Homo sapiens: one gene and its partner. The protein of the gene in region 2 interacts with the protein of the main gene of each other region in a pairwise test. Each region holds a gene or a part of one and is shown on either strand. Other genes may lie near its edges.

The links.
Region 1: the proteins of RND2 (region 2) and USP47 interact in binary tests that used the Homo sapiens proteins (3 or more experiments, as listed by UniProt).

The regions. Positions count from the first base shown.
Region 1 is NC_000011.10:11,956,972-11,962,429, reverse strand, and holds the end of USP47 (ubiquitin carboxyl-terminal hydrolase 47), read right to left. Parts: 3' UTR 543-5,458; downstream 1-542. UniProt on the Homo sapiens protein: Ubiquitin-specific protease that specifically deubiquitinates monoubiquitinated DNA polymerase beta (POLB), stabilizing POLB thereby playing a role in base-excision repair (BER). Acts as a regulator of cell growth and genome integrity.
Region 2 is NC_000017.11:43,021,202-43,028,272, forward strand, and holds the start of RND2 (rho-related GTP-binding protein RhoN), read left to right. Parts: upstream 1-4,029; 5' UTR 4,030-4,146; coding exon 4,147-4,248; intron 4,249-4,300; exon of another isoform or gene 4,301-4,320; coding exon of another isoform or gene 4,321-4,338; intron 4,339-4,758; coding exon 4,759-4,846; intron 4,847-5,981; coding exon 5,982-6,091; intron 6,092-6,859; coding exon 6,860-6,994; intron 6,995-7,071. Other genes in the region: VAT1 (synaptic vesicle membrane protein VAT-1 homolog), read right to left, coding at 735-1,121.

The DNA of each region.
Region 1 (5,458 bases), on a different chromosome or scaffold from region 2:
TAGGGTCCCTACCTTGAAGGCATCCCAGTCTAATGAGGGAGACACAGCCAGAGCAAGCAATGACAAAACAAAGACAGTCAACCCGATGTGGGAACAGAGGTGTTACGGAAGCCTCAGTGGAGCACTTGGGGAGAGCTGGCATGGGAACTGGCTCTTGAAGATGATAGGAGTTTATCAGGAAGCCAGAGGGCACAGGAAAGGGCTTTCTGGGCCATGGGCAGAGGGAGGGAGGCACAAGGGTCAGGTGCCATGTAGGGGAAACTGCAAGTCATTTGCAGTGGCTGGAAGGCAAGGAAAGCTTGAGGAAGCATTTAGAGAAGAGGCTAAAAATTATGTCATCCAAAAAATGATTGAAAACATTGTGGTAAATGAGATAAAACTAGGTCCCCCATAGTTGTATATGTAGATATAGTAGGCTGCTCCATTTTGTCATGATAGCCACAAACTTGTAAGAACACGAGAGGCTTTGCAAAATACTTAGCTGAAGCCAGCATCTGAGTAGCATCTGAGTGTCTCCTTTACTCAGTCCTGAGTGAAATGTGGGAGGGGCTGGGTGGAGGTGGTGCTTGAATACCTTGCTGCTGCTCTCTCCCAAAGCCAGAGTTCCTGCCAAGCCATGGCAGATGCCGTCAGGTAAACTGCTCAACAGCTGTTCTCAGTCCCTCCAGCAGCTAGGGCTGGCCCCATGACCCAGGAAATGTAAGGGGAGGGCTCCCAGAGTTTCTGGAATTTTTTCCCAATTGACAAAAGGAGAGTGGCAAACAAGAATGGAGCTCCTGCCCTCCATCCACTTCCCCTGCCTTTGAGTATGGTGCTCAGGAAGCGACATTTGGCTCTGGGGCAGCCATCTGGTGATCATGTGATCAACAGGGCTGCATTCCTCTGGAGGCTCTGGGGAGAGTCCATTTCCTTGCTGTTTTTTAGCCTCTATAGGTCACTGGCATTCCTTGGCTCATGGGCCCCTTCATCTTCAAATCCTGCAATGACAGTTCTGTCCTTCTCAGGTGCCAGCTCTCTGGCTTTCTACAGGTGGGAAAGGTTCTCCACTTCTGGGGACCCATGTGATCAAATTGCGCCCACCTAGATAATCCAGAATAATCTTCCCACGTCAAGGTCCTTAACCTTAATTGCATCTGCAAAATCTCTTTTGCCCTGTCAGGTAAATAATCACAATCTTCCCACGTCAAGGTCCTTAACCTTAATTGCATCTGCAAAATCTCTTTTGCCCTGTCAGGTAAATAATCACAGGATACAGGGTTTAGGATGTGGCCCTACCACAGAAAGAGTCTTTGAGTCCTTGACATTGAGGAGGAAACCAATCCTGTTCTCCACCATCTCTGGACACCTTAAGTAAACCACCGATATTATTATTGATAAAGCTGGTGTTAGCTTTTCTGTTATTTGAAGCCAAAAAGCATTTCTGACACAGGAGCTATTTGCATGATGAACCATAGCCTGCAGGAGAACAAAGCCCAACTGGTTCTCTGGGCCTGTGGGGAGGGAGGATGAGGTTGAAGAGGGAAGGGAGGGGCCTGCTGTAGTGTGAGGGACAAAGACAGGAAGAGAAAAAAGGCATTAGGTATTCCTGTGGTCTGCACATCCTCTCCAGATACTCAAGAAATGCAATTCAACTATTTGGAGATTACTTTTTGATAGCTATGCTTGGTTTCTAAATGCAGCTAGGCCCCTGCACACAGGGCTTGCTGAAAGTGGCCACCTCAGCAGCAGCAGCACAATTGCCCTGTATAAAGATGACCAAGGGAGGGTGAAATCCCCTTTTGGGAGATTGTGGTGTTTGGAAAACAGATTCTTCCCCTCCCTGACACTCCGTTGAGGGAGGAGAGGTTAGATTTTATTCCCTTGGCTGAAACTTCTGAGGGGAACTTTTTGAGACACTCATGGAAGATCAAATTGAGGGTTGAAGACTTGGTAGGGACTAGTGCAGCATGGGATAGTGGTATTCACTGCAGAGAAGTGTCTGCCAGCAGGAGGCTGGCAAGACACTGTCAAATTTCATGAGGGAGCACCAATGCTGTTAGGAGTTGGGTCCTTTGCTGATAGGACCTGCAGGGCATCTACCTTCATGTCTACAAAAAAGTTACTAGTGACCAGGCACAAGGGGACAGTAACCTTACCAGCCTCATTGCTAAGAAGTGGTTAGCACATGTCTTCCCCCCGCTCTTCCTGGCCTCTTCCACCACCAGTCAAGCTGGTGCAGGAGTTGGCAGGGACAGCACATCTTGGAGGCACTATGGAGGTTCAGGGGAGCTTTGAATGAAACCACTGAACTTTAAGATAAGATTGTCTTAATAATGCAAAATGACTTAAAAGTCACAGGATTGCACTGAGCACTTGATAAGCCCACTGCCCAGTGGGTAACTGCATTTGACAAAACAATTGGCACAGTTATGAAAAAAATGTAAGCATTGAGTATTTTTATCTCCATAAATTATACTCTTCAAGCAGGTTACTTAAGCATTATAAAAGAGGCTGAAAACAGGTGGGGAGAGGGCAGGTGGGAAACATGGAAAGCAGAGGGAAGGGGAGCTTGGTGCCCACCTGTGAGGCAAGGTTTTAGGGTCCAATAACAATTTCTGACCTGGTGAGCTGACACTCAGTTGAGATCAATTCTCTTGTACAGGTGAGCTGGTGAGGAGGTGGAAAGGGGCAGTGCTGTGATGGGGAAGGGGCAGAGCATTCCTCTCAACTCTCTTTTGCCCTCCTAGCTTGACCTACTGATGGCTGCACTCTTTTCTAAATAGTAACACATGCTCCAATGCATGCTTGAGTTTGTGCAGTATTCTTGTTTCTGAAAGTCAAGTTGTGACAATTAATGCTGTATCTAACCAAATGATCACAGCCTCCCTCTTCCCCATGGGAACTACAATCAAGAAGCATCTTCCAATTTCATGTACACTAAACCTAGGTGGCCACAAGCTTCATTTGGGCCATGAACTCCTTTGAAACCCTCATAAAAACTGTCCTACTATCTCCCTGGTAAATCGCACATACACAGAGTTTTGCCTTTCAGGACATATGGCCTTATAAGATTTTGACTACTAGTGACCAAAATGTTGATGTTTTTCAAAAATTACACAGAATTGTTAAGATGGAATAGTTTTATTCAGCAAACAAAAAACTTGCTAATTCAGAGTATCCTCTAGTCCACGTAATGTGGTTTAGACTACATTTGCAAAATTAGGGCCTTGACGCTGAACAAAATAAAATCCAGAGGAAGAACTACAGTATCCAATCAAAAAGGAAGTACTAGCAAATGAACCAGAATAAAAGACTTTATTGTATTCCATACATTCACAGGTCACTTCCAGATTTAGTAACAACACTGCAATGCTATGATGCTGTGCGGTCATTTAGCTTAAACCACAGTGTAAGTTGGTAGCTCTCTCCTGCTCTCTTGGCCTCTAGATGTATCACAATACAATTCCTAACTGTGGCCTGGCAACCAATGCTTATTTCATTGGATTATTTTCTGACTGGGACATGAGTTCATCGCATCTTCCCAGAATTTTAAAGTACCTTCCCTTACATTATAAGAGATGACCAAACACTCTAGTGTGAAGGCTGCTTCACACACTGTTCTTATCTATCATGATTGCTCTTCCTTACATACACGTCCCGTACAGATCAGCTACACACGGCATGGTCCTGAAACCACAGCTTTTGTTTCTTTGGCCAGAATGCACCCCTCACCTTGAGTGCCCGCCTTAGAAACACAGGTACTTGGTTCTCACAGGGTGTGCATGGTTGACACAAGTTCATCTGCCCCACGGTAAAAGCTCTTCAAAACCTTTGCATGACTTGTGGGGAGCAGGGTCACAATTTGTTGCATGTGACCTGCCTCAGCCTCAAAAGATAAGAGATCATGAGGCTCCACCGCCCCCGGGCTCAGGAAACTTGATCCACATCGCTAGGGCTCTGCCTGTTAGGTTATGGATGCTCACCTGACTCTCTGAAGCAGAGGGAGGCTGACACAGATTAGCTTTTATTGAAATTATTAAAGTGCAACTTTGTGTTTTCACTCTATCAGGCACTGAAAAGCAAGAAGCTTTTAATTTTTTCTTTTCTATAATGAAATATATTTTCTTTACTCTTATTTGTATCTGTAATACACCTGCAATTAGAAACAGCAGTTAAACATAAAACAAAGAACAGAGCAGAAGGCACAGTCTAAAGAGTGGGTATCAGAAGAATTTTACCATTTACGCTCATAGGAATACTAAACCAAACCCAATCAGACCAAACTCCAAAGCCCATTGTGTTTACAAGTCTGCCTCTTTTGTGTGATAGCAAGTCAGTCCTTTAAAGCAGAAACCCCATTTACTAACCCTACATCCCAAGTAAGCAGGCCTGTATCAGAACCAAACAGCTGTCCTCTTACATCAGAAAATCTAAGTGATCTGAAAGACAATTCATCACAAGTGTTTCCAATTTTCTTCTGAGAACATCACCAATCCCACTAATGCAAACTCAGAACATTACTTCAGTCAAATTTCGCTAAATGCTATAGCTTTCTTCAAATAAAAATTAGCCAGAAAAATACCTTAGAAAAGATTTTTTTTTTCATTGTGGATTCCAGGAGACTTTTAAGACATGGAATTCTCGGTGATTATATTCAAATGGCAGAGCCACATTTGCTAACAGTATTTTCTAATTTTATCTTTCTTATAAGAAAAAAAGGGTAAAAATCGGATCTGAAATACTGACAGGGTTCCCCAAAGTTAGATATTAACACAGCTTTTCATTTCTCTTATGAGAACTTTACTGTAAATATACCTTTATCATAGAAATGAGATATCCAATACACATTACAAAATGTCATATTTAAAGATGACAAATCTATTCTTAACCCAGATTCTTCATCCACAGAAGTTTAATGACTAAAATAACACAACAGAATGAACAAATGTTTTATTGGCATGTTCATTGTTGTAAACAGCATCTGGCATGAAAAAGTTTTACCAAAACCTTTTTTATTGATTTTTATAAATTAGATGGTATGTCAAAATTTATGTAGAATTGTGTTCATTGAGTACTTTTATTTAGCAAAGCAAAAACTTGCTGATACTAATAAACTCTGCAATGAAATCATGTTGACTGCATCAGTCTGTACCATGACCTGACCTCATTAGCAAGTTTATTCAGAACAATGTTAAGACGTTTCCCAAAAGTTAAACTACATGTAACTACAAATTGACTCTAAAAATTAAAACTGGACTTACAAGCATTCTAGAAGATTCAAACTTGAAGTAAATCTTCAAAACTAGATGTACAAAGAGAAAAAAATTGAAGCCGCTGAACAGAGAAACCTCATTAACAAGGGCAACGACAATCCTATGGGACCTAGCACTGAGGAACCTCACTGAGGATTACATTTACATAGATTGCTATACTTCTCAATGTACACAAATGTACAGAATGAATGATACGTGAAAAGAAT
Region 2 (7,071 bases):
GGCCCGAAGGCTGAGGGCTGAGTCACAGGAGGAGGAGATACTGCAGTCACGGGAGACACAGAGCCCAAGACAAAGATCGGATGACCCAATCCCGCCTCCCCCACCCCAAAATCAGATCGGCGGTGTAAGGCTGGTGGCGGTGGGGTAGCAAAGGCTCTCTCTCCTCCGTGATGGGCGTGTCTCGTCTCTTTGGCCTTGCTTTGGGAGGGGCCGCCTCACACCCCCACAGACCACGGGGCTGCATGTGACCAGGACTCTGGCACGGCCGCTGTGCCCCCGCCCAACCCCGACGACATAGCCCCTCAAGCTCCCTCGGGGAAAGGGGGCACTAACCGTCACTCATAGTCACAGACCACAATTACCCAGAGAGTGTTTGGTGGGTAGGGGTACAGGTGTGGTTTTAATGGGGGGGGGGGGGGGGGGTGGGGACGGTAGTGTGGTTGTGCGCATGCGCATGGGCACCTTATTGTTTTCCCCCCCACCAGCACAGCTTCTGGGCGGCGGCCACAACTAAAAATGGTTGGGGAAGGGGCGATAATTTCGTCTCCCCTCCCCACATAAATGCCGCTCTCCAGGAGCCCCCAAACACAAGTTCCTTGGCTACGCTTTCCACGCTCGTGCACCCAGGTCCGCGCCAGTTTCTCCCGCCCTGCCACACCCCCGGCGCTCGCCCACTCGTGCCCCACTGCCCAGTGGCCTGCGCAGCCCTGCCCTGCCCTACGCAACCCGCTCACCTTGCGGTCGCTGACTCCCTCGCCCACTGCGATCACAACACCCGCGCCCTCCATGCCCGGAGTGACAGGCAGAGGCGGGAGACGGTCGTACAGCCCCTGCCTAGCCATGAGGTCTGCGAAGTTGAGCCCGCAGGCCCGCAGACGCAGCGTCAGCTGGCCGGGCCCAGGGGCCGGGGGCGCTGCCGGCCGGCTCTGCAGCTTCACCTTGTCGTAGCCTCCAAAGCCGGTGAGCACTAGGCAGCGCAGCAGTGGCGGCGAGGCGGCGGCGGCGGCGGCCCCTTCGGAGGCCGCGGGATGCTGGGGGTCGCTCGCTGCCTCGGTTTTCGGAGGCGGCGAAGAGGCGTCTTCCCCGGTCGCTGCCTCGGCTACCTCTCTCTCGTCGGACATGGCTGGGACTCCCGACGAGAGCGCACAGCTGGATGGAGAGTGCACAGCTGGGGAAGGCGGAACGCGTCGGGAAGAGCCGCGGCTGCGGGATCCAGCGGGAGGGGCGGGGCGCCGGGCGAGGCGGGGCCTCGCGCTCAGCCTTAAAGGGCCAGGGCCATAGTGGCGCAAGCTGGGAGAGCACGAAAAGGGGCACCAGGAACGTCTGTGCTCTTGGGATCAAGCCGACTGTGATTTATTTATTCATAGTAAACCTTATTCAAATTAAAAACTATTTTAAGGGATAGGCCTGGCGCGGTGGCTCACGCCTGTAATCCCAGCACTTTGGGAGGCCGAGGCTGGTGGATCATTTGAGGTCAGGAGTTCAAGACCAGCCTGGCCAACATGGTGAAACCCCCGTCTTTACTAAAAATAAAAAAGTTAGCCGGGCGGTAGTGGCGCGCGCCTGTAATCTCAGCTACTTGGGAGGCTGAGGCAGAGGAATCGCTTGAGCCTGGGAGGCGGAGGTGAGCCGAGATCGCGCCACTACACTCCAGTCTGGGCAACAGAGTGAGACCCTGTTAAAAAAAAAAAAAAAAAGGGCCGGGCGGCGTGGCTCACGCCTGTAATCCCAACACTTTGGGAGGCCGAGGCGGGTGGGTGGATCACCTGAGGTCAGGAATTCGAGACCAGCCTGACCAGTATGGTGAAACCCCAGCTCTACTAAAACTACAAAAATTAGCCAGGCATGGTGGCAGGTGCCTATAGTCCCAGCTACTAGGGAGGCGGAGGCTGGAGAATTGCTTGAACCCAGGAGGCGGAGGTTGCAGTTAGCCAAGATCATGCCGCTGCACTCCAGCCTGGGCTACAGAGGGAGACTCCATCTCGAAAAAAAAAAAGGCCGGGCGCGGTGTCTCACGCCTGTAATCCCAGCACTTTGGGAGGCCGAGGCGGGCAGATTACGAGGTCAGGAGATTCACCTGGCTAACACGGTGAAACCCCGTCTCTACTAAAAAATACAAAAAATTAGCCAGGCGTGGTGGCAGGCGCCTGTAGTCCCAGCTACCTGGGAGGCTGAGGCAGGAGAATGGCATGAACCCAGGAGGCAGAGCTTGCAGTGAGTCGAGATCGCGCCACTGCACTCCAGCCTGGGCTACAGAGCGAGACTCCGTCTCAAAAAAAAAAAAAAAAAGTTAAGGAACAGTCCCAAAACTTGAACTTACATCAGATTTGGAGTTAACTCATATCAGATTTGGAGTCAGCCACCTGTGGACTGGAGTCCAACTACATTGTGTCTCAGGCTCTGACATCTAACCCAGGCAGGGATGAGACTTAATTCACTGTGGTCTTGCAGTGGCAAAGTAGAAGCATGGAGACCAAGCCTTTAAAACTTTCTGACTTTGGTGTTAACGTTCTGTTCCTCATTTTCCCTTCTGTAACATAGTGATGATGCTGCGTGCTCTAGTTATATTTATATTTTTATTTTTTTGATACAGGGTCTCACTCTGTCACCCAGGCTGAGCGAGGTGGGGCGATCACAGCTCCCTACAGCCTCAAACTCCCGGCTTCAAGCAATCCTCCCACCTCAGCCTCCTGAATAGCTGGGACCACAGGCATGTGTCACCACGCCCGGCTAACTTTATGTTTTACTGCTCTTTGCAGAGCAGGGCTACCCCATAGGCAGCGTGCCTAGAGTGGCCAAACCTAGCTAAGTTTTGATTTTTTTTTCTAGAGAGAGGGTCTCGCTAATGTTGCCCAGGATGGCCTCAAACTCCTGCACGCAAGCAAGCCTTGGCCTCCCAAAGTGCTGAGTTTACAGGCGTGAGCCACCGCGCCCAGCTTCTAGTTATCTTTACAGAATTATTTGCAGCATATATTATTGACTCGAATTGCCTCGATATAAAAAAGCACTTTTTTTTTTTCGAAACTCTATTGCACAAGCTGGAGTGCAGTGAGGCAATCTCGGCTCACTGCAAGCTCCGCCTCCCGGGTTCACGCCATTCTCCTGCCTCAGCCTCCTGAGTAGCTGGGATTACAGGCGCCCACCGTGCGGGTTTCACCGTGTTAGCCAGGATGATAGTCTCGATCTCCTGACCTCTTGATCCGCCCGCCTCGGCCTCCCAAAGTGCTGGTATTACAGGCGTGAGCCACCGCGCCCGGCCTATTGTCAGACTCTTAATCAAGCCTGACTTTTGGGTTTAGCTCTGGCTCCAGCAGAGCAACTCTGGCGGTTGGTTCTTTCTCTTCCTTATCTCCTTGTCCCCAAGCATCCACCAGAGGACGCAGCTCCCCCAAAACTTTCCACCCAGTGCTTGGCTGGAGGAACTCAGTCCACGCTTCTCTGCTAGTCTAGGCCGGCGGTTAAGTCAATGTAACCGGAGACCCGGCTGCCCGTTGCCATGGGGACGGAAAGCTATGATGTCACCACCGTCCGGGTGGGTGTGCTGGGGTTCACCCTCCCATTTCCCCAAGACCCCCTGCCAGGACATAGGCGGACGCGGGAGAGAAAACCAAAGAGGCTCCCTCCTTCCCCTTAGCATCTCTCTCCCGCCGTGTTCAGGAAGTGGATGGCTGCCCCAGCTCTTGTCCGCACTGGTACACCTGCGTGCACGCGTGGGTACACAGCAGGCCCGAGCTTCGCGCTTGTGCCGCTCATATTCTACCCCTAAGAACTTCGCTTGAACTCTGACCTGCCCTTATATCCGAGAAAGTCAAATAAGCCCAGTTCGGCCTGTCCCAAACCGGCAGGGGCCCCTCAGACCACACCGGCGGGCTGGACCCCGGCTCTGAGGCCTCTGTTCCCAGGGCTCCGCCCAGATCTTCTGGGCCCCGCCCCCCGGCTGCGGGGGTGGGAGGAGGGGCCGGGGGGGCGCGGCCGCCTGGCTGGGGGCGGGGCGGAGGGGGGGCCGCGGACCCGGGGCGGGGGCTCGGCGCGGGCCCGCGAGATGCCGGTGTTGGCGGCCCGAGCGGCTGCAGTTGCAGGGGCGGGGGAGGCGGCGGCGGGGCCCGGGAGAGGGGTGGCGTGGGGGACCGGCGCGTAGCCGGGACCATGGAGGGGCAGAGCGGCCGCTGCAAGATCGTGGTGGTGGGAGACGCAGAGTGCGGCAAGACGGCGCTGCTGCAGGTGTTCGCCAAGGACGCCTATCCCGGGGTGAGGGACCTGCGTCTTGGGAGGGGGACGCTAAGGCTGCTGGGGGGTGGGTGACAGGGGCCCTGGCGACGGATGGGAATGGGTACTCGGGTAACCAGGGACAAGAGACAGGGGGTCGGAGGACGCGGGGAGGCCTTGAGGGCTCAGGAAGGACTGCAGAGGATTGGGGTGGGAGGAATTAGGGAGCAGGGTGAGATAGATGGGGTTTGGGAGAACCAGAGCATCCGGGAGGGAGGGCGAGGGGAATGTCGGAGGTCCTGGGCAATGGAGAGGGGAAGAACTAGGGGGCTGAAGGGACCAGAAGGGAACAGGAGGAGGTCTGGGAGCTTAGCAGAGATTCTCCGGGGGGGGGGGGGGGGGGGCAGGAGCTCCCGGGATCTCCCCTTTGCCCAATCCCAGACCAACTTGTGTCCAGGGGCTGGGCTGGACGGGGTGTGGGAGTGAGGAGGGCATTTATCTGGGGTGAGGACTTGGAGAGATGATCTCATCTGGATCCATCCGTGTCTGCAGAGTTATGTCCCCACCGTGTTTGAGAACTACACTGCGAGCTTTGAGATCGACAAGCGCCGCATTGAGCTCAACATGTGGGACACTTCAGGTAGCCAAGTCCCTGGGGGTCACCCTGACTTCCAAGGCGGCCCACTCTGTCCCCTCCCTTGGTTAGACCCTTAGGTTCCAGGTAAGCCCAGCCCATCCATCCAATTCCAACAGGAAGGGAAAAATCAATATTCTGCTAAAATCCAGGGAAACTGAGGTAGAACTTGCAGAGCCTGACAGAAACCATGTCCTGAAGGAGAAAGCCTAGGATCTGAGCCCCTCAGCTGGGTCCTGCCTACCTGGGAAAGTTGGGAAGGAATGGCTTTTAATTTGGAACATGTTCCTTCAGAGATAAGACTGGGTTTAGAAAAGACATTTAGAGGCCAGGCACGGTGGCTCACGCCTGTAATCCTAGCACTTTGGGAGGCTGGGGTGGGGGGATCACCTGAGGTCAGGAGTTTGAGACCAGCCTGGCCAACATGGTTGAAACTCCGTCTCTACTAAAAATACAAAAATTAATCGGGCGTGTGGCACGTGCCTGTAATCTCAGCTACCAGGAGGCTGAGGCAAGAGAATCGCTGGAACCTGGGAGGCGGAGGCTGCAGTGAGCCGAGATCATGCCGCTGCACTCCAGCCTGAGCGATAGAGCGAGACTCCATCTCAAAAAATAAAAAAGCAGAAAAGACATTTAGAATGTCTTGAGTGAGGGGTGGTCAGGAGGCTGTTTCTCTCCATTGAACTAGATAAATCTGAGGTCAAGTCCCAGGAGAATGGGAGAGTGCTCTCCCTGCCACTGCTCTTTTCCTCCTCCCAACATAAGGAGGGTTTTTATTTTTACAAGAGTTCCCTTCAGGGCTTTAGACTGCCAAAGCCCAGAAAGCACATGCAACATTTTATGAGAATGTCTATAGATTTTATGAGCTTCTCAAAGGGGTCCAAACCTCAGTCAAGAATAAAAATTATTACTTTTTAAACCACTAGGGAAGCAGAGAGCCGTTTCCCACCATGTGACCTCCCTTCTGCCCGCTCCCCCACTTGGGAAACCCAGACTCCATGATGGGTATTAATGATGGGTATTAATGGTTGCTCTTTTCCATTCTCTGCTCCCAGCATCCCTTGACCAGGATCTGTAAGGTCTCCCATTCCCTTCCAGGCCTCCCATCCACTCAGGCCCCTCATGCCCTGTCTTCCTTCAGGTTCCTCTTACTATGATAATGTCCGGCCTCTGGCCTATCCTGATTCTGATGCTGTGCTCATCTGCTTCGACATTAGCCGACCAGAAACACTGGACAGTGTTCTCAAGAAGGTGGGAGCCTGGGGAAATAGGGCAGCTAGACTGAGGGGGACCAGACCACCATGGTCCTGACATAACATGGGCCAGGAGGAGGGAGTGATGGCTGGGGTATGGCCATCAGCTGGTTAGCGAGTGAAGCTCTCATCCCTGCCACCCCTGCCTCCAGCCCCCATCCCTCCCAGCCACCCCTTTCCTGAAAGTCCTCAGAGCTGGATACAGCAGCTAGGGGAGGTGGGGGAGTGAAGGGAGAAGCACTCACAGGATTCCTTCTCTGCTCTTCCAACTCCTTGGCAGTGGGAGTCCCAGATGGAGGGGATGGGATGGGAAGCCTGATCCTGGAGCTCAGGAAAGCCCTGTGGCCTCCTCTCCAGGCCCCAGTTTCCATGACAAAAGCCAGGGGTGAATGGACAGAAGTCAGCTAGGGCAGCCCCAGTTCCCAGGTGGGGGAGGGGAGGGTGGGATAAATTTGTTCCCAGGAGAGAGTATGGGAAAGGCGAGTGGGAATGGGAAGTTTCCAGGCTGGCAGACCCTTCATAGCCACTGAGGGAGAAGAGTCCACAGGCCCACGCCAGCCCTCTCCTCCCCGCTGCTTCTCTCTCACCCCATCCTGCTCTCAAACCAAGCCTAGCATTCTCACCTCCTTCCTCATGTGGGAGAGTCCTGAGGGATACATGGTTTCTGCGTGCTTGAGGAAGAGAGGGCACACTGCTGGCATGGCACAAAGGCTCACGCTGTGCCTCCCTCCACCCCTCCACAATTCTCTTTTCTTCTCCTACATAGTGGCAAGGAGAGACTCAAGAGTTCTGCCCCAATGCCAAGGTTGTGCTGGTTGGCTGTAAACTGGACATGCGGACTGACCTGGCCACACTGAGGGAGCTGTCCAAGCAGAGGCTTATCCCTGTTACACATGAGCAGGTGGGACCCTTGACGTCTGACCTCATCCCAGCCTAGACCTGTCACCTCTGCCCCTTCAGTCTCTGATTTGAAAACAC